Linked DNA regions of Homo sapiens: region 2 is linked to region 1. A link means that fine-mapping ties the variant in region 1 to the expression of a gene that starts in the linked region. Tissue or cell type: whole blood. Region 1 holds a variant in brackets; the other region holds the start of a gene. All regions are shown on one strand. Distances are from middle to middle.

The links. PIP is the estimated chance that this variant, and not a neighbour inherited with it, causes the effect.
Region 2: it holds the start of PLXNA2, and the variant in region 1 is fine-mapped to the expression of PLXNA2 in whole blood (TOPMed, PIP 0.93).

Annotation. Positions count from the first base shown.
Region 1 is chr1:208,536,717-208,541,666 of GRCh38, forward strand. No RefSeq gene overlaps it. Among named protein-coding and RNA genes, the nearest start is that of LINC01735, 75 kb to the right of the region's middle. The variant C/T (reference allele first, on the strand shown) is at 2,031.
Region 2 is chr1:208,242,196-208,247,145 of GRCh38, forward strand. It overlaps PLXNA2 (plexin A2), which reads right to left and starts at 2,189. Exons shown (of 32, transcript NM_025179.4): 1 at 1,448-2,189. RefSeq lists enhancers at 727-1,228, 1,229-1,728 and a silencer at 2,247-2,306.

The DNA.
Region 1 (4,950 bases):
AATTCTCCTCCCAACAACACAATAGCTACCACCTATAGATTGCCAAGCCCTTCCGCAAATGCATGAAGGGAGGTATTAAGTGACTTGCTCCCTCAAGGTCTTTATCTACTTTTCTGTGGGTTCACCTTTGGTTCCCAGGGGAATTTTGCATTTTTAGTGAAGTAGCCATGCAGAGACAAGGTCTGTAGACTGGTGTGTGGGGACACAAAAGGCAGTGAGCAGATAAGAGCTGACAGTTGCTATGCCAAAAACAGGAGAAAGGGGAGACATATTTCTCTTTATGCAGCGGAGATCTTCTTTGATCAATTTACATAAATTGATTTTTTTAAAGTTTGAAACCTTTCTCCCCATTATTCTTATTTTCCTCTCAAATCAATGAATGCATCTCAGTTTGATTTTCTATAATCAGTGGCTTGCTATGAGCATTTCTATCCTACAGTTTAAAGACCTGTAAATAAACACTTTCGTGTACTCAGGGGAACAGATGCTTAAAGGTGTTCTTTGATAATGTACATGATCAACACTTAATGCATCTTTTTGTAGCTTCCCATTTTCATGAAAACAAGTTATCCTAAAGAGAATTATTTCTAAAGTCAAGGACTGGCTCCTTCTGGAAACCCCCATCTAGCCCCCAGCATAGGTTGATGGCTGGGCTGGGCTTTGTCTCTCAGGCTGCTTGGCAACAATGGGCTCTCTCCTCACTGGGCACTGACCAGCCGCTGGGAACAATGAACTCATGCACCCTCAGCCAGCACCAGGAGTCACTTAGTTCTCCTTTTGACCTTGCCTTTCAAAAGCTGATCCTTATTAACCATCAGGATGCGGTGGGGAGTTGCTGAGACAATCCTCAGCAGCAGCAGGGTGACCCCCGAGTTGTGTCTGCTCTGAGACAATATAACCCCTAAGCTCCAGGGCTCCGAGGGTAGTGATTTAACAAATCGTGTGTTTAAACAACTGATGGCACGACGCTGTTGGAGGGGTCTTTGAAGCACATTTCTAAATAATGGGGGAAATAATGAACACCTCTCACAAGGGTATTTAAATGACATACACATTAGGAGGTTGGGGGGAGGCTCTTCTCTTCTTGCATAATGGACACTTTTTCCTGTTCTTTCATCCTGTTTTCACTTCATGCTTCAAAAATAGTTGTTGAGTGAGCAGACCTCTGGGCACTTTGTAACCAGAAAGAGAAAGACCGCCAATGGCCTGTCACCAGCCTTTCTGAGAGGTCCCAGCCTCTCAGATGCCCTGATGCAGGCAGAGGAGTCCAGTGGAAAGCCCAGAGCATTCCTGCTCCTAAATCCCCTTCCTCACCTGCCATTGGAAACATATTTCCTTATTTAAGACATTGCTGTCAGTAGATGGGAGGTGGCATAGAAAGCTGCTTGTGGGCAGTGACATTTGGCACATTGCAGTTACCCAGATTATGTTCTAAGGAAAATATTAGCTGGGAGAGAATGGGGCACAGGATTAGCAAACTTTGATTTCGTGTTGTGGGGTACGTGGGAGTATGGAAGGGAACAGGCTTGTAGGACTAATTCCAGGTTCTTAATATAGCAAATCTCTGCCTACATCTTTACCTAGTTTCTCACGACTCCCCATATCCGGCTTGTTCCCTAGCATCATGCTGATATTCTTGACACACGCTTACACTGGTCCCTCGCCTAGACCTCTCCTACTTTGCCTGTGTATCTTCTACTCTGCCCTAGTTTCTTCGTGAGGCAGGGTCACAGTACCACTTTTGCTGGTCCTAAGCAATTTGGCCTTTGTGGGCTCTTCTTCCAAAAAAAAAAAAAATGTAAAATTCTATTTGATAACAGCACTGGCATGAAGATGCGTATAATGTAGGCTGAATTCATTGTTACTAGCCGTTATTATTATAATCATCTATTCTTGTTTTAAAAGAAATTAAAATTAAAGCATTTTTGTGGGCCACAGGCTCTGTGGCCTGACGGATGTCATGGCTAACGGATGTCAGCTCTGCACCTGAGAGCCCTTTCTGCCTTCCCCGCAGGTTACACACCCATTGT[C/T]TGTTGTTCTCATTAACTTCTCTTTAATATTGCTCTTGCCACACTGTACTGTAGTTTCCTGTTTGCGCAGGTTACGCACCCATTGTCTGTTGTTCTCATTAACTTCTCTTTAATATTGCACTTGCCACACTGTACTGTAGTTTCCTGTTTGTGTATTTGCCTCTCCTATTAAACCTGGTTCTTCTTGAGAAGAGAGAACTGTGCTGTGTTCATTGTGGAATACTGCACAATTCACCCAGGGCCTAACTCGTAAGTAGCCACTCCACACATCCACATTGTACTGAGCGGTTGACAAAGACAGAGCTGGTGGGGCACTGTCCTGAGGGTTCGGCCACAGCAAGGAAGGCACTGGTCAGCAGGAATGGTGCTGACAGGGCAAGTGGGTGGGAGGATTTCGCAGATTTGCCTTGCCTGTTCTACACATTAGCTGAGGGCCGAGACTGCCCACAGGCAGTCATAAACTGGCTGTGGTGGTCAAAGCCACCTGCAGATCTGACAGGAGGAAAGGCTAAGCTCCTCTCTGTCCAACGCGGCTTTAGTGCCCTAAGGAGATCACCTTTCCAAGCACAGCAACCCTGCCTGTGAGCAGGGCCCTGTGTGCCCACATAAAATGGAGAAACAAAAACAACACAATCGATAAACGAGCAATTTCATAAGTATGATTTGGGGTCAGTTTGGCTGGAGGGGAGAATTTAATTGCAAAGCTCCTACGTCTCAACTGCCTGAGGGTAGAAATTGGAGAGAGAAGAATGGGAGACTCGAATGTTGATTATTAATAAGTCTTAAGGGTTGAGGGTGGAGGAAGACCTGTGAAGACTGAGGTTAAAATGATGCAGATGAAGGCACTTTAGGTGAATGCTTTGAATTTATACATTGCTGCTTCAAATGGCCCCAAACTTAAATAGAAAGATGATCTGTGTTGCATTTCAGAATTTGTTCTTATAAAAATGAAAAGCCCAATAGGGTATTGTGCTAACAACCTACTAGAATACCATTTGGCATTAAAAGAAAAAGAAGTTCAAGATGTAGTCCCTACTGTCAAATAGCTTGGAATCCAAACTGGGCAAGGCAGGTCATGTGTGAATCTCTTGTTGAAAGTGACAGAGCAGAGTGAAAACCACATAGACCTCTGGACTGAGTAAGCAAAGAGCAGGTGGGCAAGAGAAGTGAGGGGATCCAGGCTCCCATGCATGAGTGGGCTGGGCTGCCGGGACAGGTTTATCTAGCTGGCCTCACTGGAGGGTTCCAGTGGGACTAATGGATGGTTGCTAAATCTGCATCTCCAGATCTAGTCCTGTTTCTGAGCCCAAGAACCAAAATTCAATCAGCCTTTGGGATATGTTTTCCGCAAAAGACCTTTGTCAACTAAACAGACTTGACCGTTGCCCTCTAGCTCCTGCTGGTGTCCCTATTTCTGTTAATGGCAGCTTCATTACTTAATCAGAATCAGTTTCAGCATTCTTCCTGACTCCATCCTTTCCCGTATGCTCTATTTTAATTGGTACTCTGGCCCCAAAGATTCTTTTTTCACAGCTTCGCTTAAGTCAGATCTCATCTTTCCTACTCACAGGCCACCCCCTTAATATCATTTCGTGTCACCTTCTTCTGGACCGTTGAAATATCCTCCTAATGGTTTCTTCTTAGACTTATTTTAATGTATATATTGGCATTAGAATAATTTTACCCACACTGTCCTGGCTCAACATCTGCAACAGCTGTTCATGGCCTCCTAAAAAAGAGTCTTCATTCAGGCATTCTAGAAAACTGATTGAGAAGAAAAGGCTTTGGTGTCAAACAGACCTAGTTTGAGCCCCAGTTCTATTACTTAGCAGTGTGACATTTGCTGAATTAACCACTCTAATCCTGATAGTTAAAATTTAGGTAATTATTGTGTCTACATCATCATGTTGCTGAAAAGATAATAGATGCAAAGTGCGTAGCACAGTGCCTGGGACAAATAAGTGCTGGATAAAGCAGTTATTATTTTTTAGCTATTATGATGCTTTGCTTCTTATCAATCTGACTACATCTATATTTAAAATAACCCTGATGTTAATTACCTCACACATACCTATGTTCTTACCAAGTGAGACTCTTCACTTGCCTCCTGCAGGGGGGGCTCTGAAATTCATTCTGCTGCCACAGGACTGGCATCCAGGATAGCCGAGTGAGGACCTGGCACCACCTGCTCCCTGAGCACAGCCTGCCAGTAACCCACAGCATTTCCCAAGCCACAAATTCAGACTTCTTCTTCAGTCCCTGGTTAGTGATGAGCCTCTCTTCAGTGCTAGGACCCTTCCCTGAGTCCCAGTAAGATGGGCCGCCCTTGAAACCCTGCTCATCCTGGCAATCTGCTGTATCTTCCTTGCTGGCATGTGGATGTCTCTGTTTCCAACAGGAAGGGCCATCCACCCTTGAAACACTGCTATGTGGAAAATTCTGAGTATGAGGCAGCATAGAAGAGTGGTTAAGGTCATGGTTGTTGGAATCAGCTGAATAGGGTCCCATTTCTGACTCCAGTGTGACCTGGAACAATTTATTTAACCTTTTACTTCCTAATCTTTAAAGCAAGGACAATCATACCACCTTATCCTGTATTCTTCTAAATGCAGGGCCTGCTAAACACACCTATGAGCTTACTTGGGCATGTGATCCCAGAAGAAGGAACCCAAGCCAGGGGAGGAGTGAATCAGTGTAGGAGGGCAGGCAATGCAAGGAGGAGTTATGGATTTGGATACTGCACAAGAGACTGGTGCTCAATTCCATTAGAATTTCTAAGCGGCATTATGAAATCCAAATCAAAATGAGCTGTCCAGGGAACAAAAGGAGAAGCATTTATCCATTAGCTTCTGTCACCCATTAGTCAAGGGTGATCCCCACTTGGCGTTAACCACTGGCACTTGCAGGTTGCACTTGTGTG
Region 2 (4,950 bases), 290 kb before region 1:
CCCAGAATCCAAAGCCAACCCAGAGGGAAGAGTGAAGTTTCAAGATCTGGGAAAGAAGCCCAGCAAAGGAGGGAGACTGCTATTGTGTGGGGAGAGGGGAGAGCTAAACCTGACTCCTGCTCTCAAAGCCTCCAGCCCAGGCCAGCCAAGATACTCATCTTGGCCTGCCGCTCATAAGCCTTGTCCACTGTGCGCGTGAATGGAAGGAAATGAATGTGCCCCCAAATTTCTGTGGGTTCTTCCAAACTGATGGGCCCCCAAGTGACTGCCTCAAGCTATGACTGGCAGTCCCAGTCCCCTCAAACTGATGCTGCCTTCATGTCCCTTGTGCACTTTCTACTGGTGTGCCACTGTCACTCTAAGATTCCTACAGGGGACCTGTTCAGATTTCCATTGCCCACTTCATGGGGCTCTCATTTCTAGACCCTTACTGACCTAGAGCCCCAAATCTTTTATCCAACTTCCTCCCCACCATTATTTCTATCCCTCCTGAGCAGAGCTGAGTTTGAGTAGGTAGCTCCCACTAGGGCAAGGGTCATTCCAAACAGGTGGACTTTTTTCGGGGATCTAAAATGGTAGTTTCTGGTGACTCTCTGGGCATCTAGACCATGATTGGCATTATAGAGACTACCTGTGGGATGGATAAAAAGGGCTAGAATTTTCTAGGATCCCTACCTCACTTGTGGGGTGGGGCAAGAAAGAGCACATGGAAGGAAACATTCTCAAATGGTTCATAAGGAGCCTCTGGGACCCTAAGCAAACTCCCATTTCAACCCCCAGCACTCCTGTGGTGCTCAAACTAAGGGGCTGGACCCCTGCTGGGCGATACACCGCAAAGGGAGCCCCGGGAGATGAAACACTTAGACCCATTCAGTGCCTAGGAATCTCTCCCTGAGCCTTATGGAACCCGCGCAAATGATGTTTTCCCATTCCCCTGATCTCCAGTCCCCGATCGGAAGGGAGAGCCGGCGGCCACCAGGGACCCCGGCACTGGAGTGAACGCCCCCAAATCGATCGCTGGCCAGTGTGGCTTTGGGCTGTCTCGCTGGTGCCACCGAGGCCCTCTTTGGGCTCCAGCTCTCAGGACAGCCTTGCCGCCCCGAGCTCCCCAAAGCCGCAGAGCGCCGGCAGGTGCGCGGTGGAGGCGCGCCGCGGAGCGCTGCTGCCGCCCTCAGCCCGCATTCGGGAAGCCGGCGGGCTGCCGGCCGGGAAGCCCTCGGCGGGAGGCAGCGGCTCCAGTGAGCCTGCGATCGCGCGCACGCCGCGCTCCAGCCCGCGAAAGTGGCCGAGCCCACGCGGGGACTCGCCCGCCGCGGCCAAGCCGGGTCTTCTGGGGCCGGGACCCCAAAGAGGCGGGCGCGGGAGAAGCCGCCACGGGTGTGCGCGCCTGTGGGGAGAGGGCGGAGGGCGCTGCCGACTCCGAGCGCCCGGCCCAGCCGCCGCTTACCCAGCTCGGCGACGTCGGTCTGTCCTTCCGTCCCCGCTCGGTCTACCTCGGCCGCCGCCGGCTGCTGAGGGCGGCGCGAGGCCCCTCTCCCTGCCCGCAGCTCGGAATCAGGGAGACGACCAAATCCACATGGAGTCCAAATTCATTAAAATCCACGTCAAGCCACCAGACACTTATCTGTATTCCTGAAGTCGCTCCTCGGTCTCCGCTCCGCGCGCCCCTCAGTCCTCCGTCGCCCCGCAGCAGCCCGGCTGGGCGCTGTCGCCGGCTCTCAGGGGGCACCCGGAGGCGCCGAGGGGGCGTGTGGGGGCGGCCGGCGGTGTCTCTCCTGAGGAAGAAGCAGAGCCCCGGCTGTCTTCAGATTTTTCCAGCGCGACTTTCCGGGCTCCTCTGACATCAGCAATCCCGGCGCTTCCTTCCCTTCTTGCTCTCCGGTTCGTTCACAGTCCCATTTCCTCCGGGAGCCTGGCTTTCCAGATCTATTTCGAGGTTTGCTCCGCTGGCTGCGGCGCTCGCACGCCCTACCGCTCCCAAGCTCTCGGGGTCTCTCTCCGGATCGCTCGCCCTCTCGGCTGAAAAATTCCCAGCAACTGCCCTCCGCCGCCCTCCCGCTCCAGTCTGGCGCGGATGCCGCTCCTCCCGGCAGCTCTGGCTCCCGCGGTGGCGGCGGCGGCGGCGGCGGCGGCGGCGGCGGAGGAGCCCTGAGCGCCGGCCTCCCTATTTCACCATGCAGCTCATTATCATAGAGGCCGCGCGCGTTAACCCCCTCCCCGCCGGCCGCGTCCGCCCGGGCTGGGGCCGCGCCCGCTGCTGGCACCGCCCGCCACCGCCAGCACCCTGCCCCCTCCCCCGCCCGCGCGGACTTCCTCCTCCGCAAGCTGTCAACAAAGGAGAAGCAGGTTTGGCATCCGGAGGCCGCTCGGCTGCCTGTCCTGCGCCCAGCTCAGCCCGGACCCATCGGCCACCTTAAGTAGCCAAGGGGGCAAGGAAAATGCTGCCAGGGCCCGGGAATTCGAGTCGGGCCTTGCGAGCCCAGCTGGCTTGGCCCCCGGGGGAATAGAAGGTCTAGCGTTGGGGTTAGGGGGGAGCTCAGAACACAGGAAGAGTGGGTGAGGGCAGTAGGGACAGGGAATCCCCCCCATTCGCATCACCTGTCACCGCACACATCCTGCACACCTCCCTCTTCATCTGTAATTTGAGTGAGGGGTGAGTGGGGAGGAACGGGGCTTGTCTGGTAGGGTTGAGACTAGAGTCTTGGAATTTGTGGGAGCAAATTTCCTCTTCTTGTAAATTAAAAAAAGAAAAAGGCCAACAAGCTGTCAAATAAGGCTTGAAGTTGTTGTTATTATTATTATTGCAATGAGAAGATGAACCTTGCTCTGAATTGAATCTCAAACTTCCAGCCCTGATAGGGATCCTGGGCATCTGGTAAGTCCCGACTTGCATGGGGGCATTGGGGACGGGAGAAGAGCTTTCTATATCCAATTCAGAGAATCTTTCTGGCAGGGTAATCAGAGGGGTGGCAATAAGATAACTTATTTTAATAACCTAAGGTGAGAGGTTTCGGGATTCTGGATGACAATGTCTCGGTGCCCTCAAGGCCACTGATTCCTCGCCACACAGTCTCAGTAACTCCGCAGCCTCTAGACACGGCTTTCCGGAAGCGGCCTGCAAGCTGGACCCCAGCGAGTTCGCAGGATCTGCGTAGTCCCTGCTCGCGATTAGAGCGCACACGAGTTTACTCCTGTCCAAGTATTCTGATAAGCTTCCTCTACTGCCCTCTCGTGGCCACAGTCCTCAGTGGTATAAATCTAAAAAACAACAAAAATCACTGCGAATACCTAAAAGCAATTGCACCAAATTCTTAGAGCAGTAGCGGCAGAAGAAACGAAGGGAGGGAAGGATGAAGAAAGGGAGCCGGAGAAAAGAGAGAGAGAGAGGAAGAAGAAAAGGAAATCTAGACTAACCAGTCATCTCGAACAATCGCACATTCAACACAGGACTGGGGGATCTAGGCTTTACTCCAACATCTGCAGAAATCAGCGAATTCTTCAAAAGTTCTTCATTGTAATTAGCTGAAATTTGTGTTCCTGTAACTTTCACTGGCTACTGCTAGTTTTGTCCTGTGGGACCACAAAGAATCTGTCTAAGCTGTGTTGCCTGATCCATACCTGTTCTTTCCTTCAAACTTCTTTAGCATTCATTGTTGGTAACACACCAATAAATTATCATATTTACCCTGTGTTATTATTTATTTATTTTTATAAGTAGATCTTGTCTCCCCATGCAGACAGACTAGTCGATCGTTTTATCTCTGGGTAGACTGAATCTAAACCACAATTTATTAAAAAAGATGATTTGAAGAAGATGCTAGAAGATTTTGGAACACTTCCTCCATTTGTTCATGGAGTTTGGCCAGCTACACCTAAGACCAGCCGTGGTAGGATTGGAGATATCTAATTGATAAAGCTCCAAGCTGAAAATTAGGGCCCTCTGGTTCTAAATCAAGTGGTGTCTGACTCTGGAAGAGGTCACCTCTCTTCCCTATGCCTCAATTTAATCACACCTTGGGAAGATTATGATACAATTGAAATAATTTTCTCATATGCCACCCTCCACTCCTGTGGTCCAGAAATAAATCTTAGAATGAAGAGCAAGGAAGCATAAAATGAAACAGACTCTTCCACTCACCCCATCTTTTATCCCCACACCTCCCCTCTCTTTCCTGAATAAAGGGAGAGAAAGAGGGAACACAGGCGGGAGGACACATTGTGGCTGACAGGGTGGCACGACGCCATCCAGATTCCACATTGCCACTGAACAGGGTCTAAGATCTGAGTCCTGTGAGACTATGGAAGAGCCTGTGGTCAGCATAGCAATGGAAAGAGCGCTAACTTGATCTACTGGGAGGTACAGTGGATGAAGTACCTCTAACTTCTCTAGGCCACAGTTTGTCCATCTGTAAGATGGGAATTTCTGTCTTCACTCTCCAGACAACTGGGGGAATTAAAATAGATATATGTAAGCGTGTTGGAAGAAGTAATAGTATCATCAAAATGGAAAGATTGTTGTTATATTTAGTCCTAATAGGCTAGAACAAATATGGATCTTATTAGCTAAACATCTAATTACCATAACATGCTCTGAGAATTTAAAAAAAAACCAAAACCTTGGGTTCATGGTTCGTATTTAGATTTGACATCCTCTGAGGCAACAGCGGTATACCTGAACCTCTAGTCTTTACATCTGCTCGTTAACCTTCTCCCTTTGATCTGGGTATTCATTCATTTATTACGCAAATATTTATGAAGAGCAAATTTACTAAATTTCTTCCTTTAATGGAACTATATACAGTCCATAATTACTGCTTTGGCACATATTTTTAAAGAAAGCATGGCAATAACCCTACAGATTCTATAACCTCAGATCTATCTCTTTCTGAGGTTTCTGGTTTTCTTGTATGTTTCTGCCCTTCACTATATTCTTCCTCATTCTGTCCATCT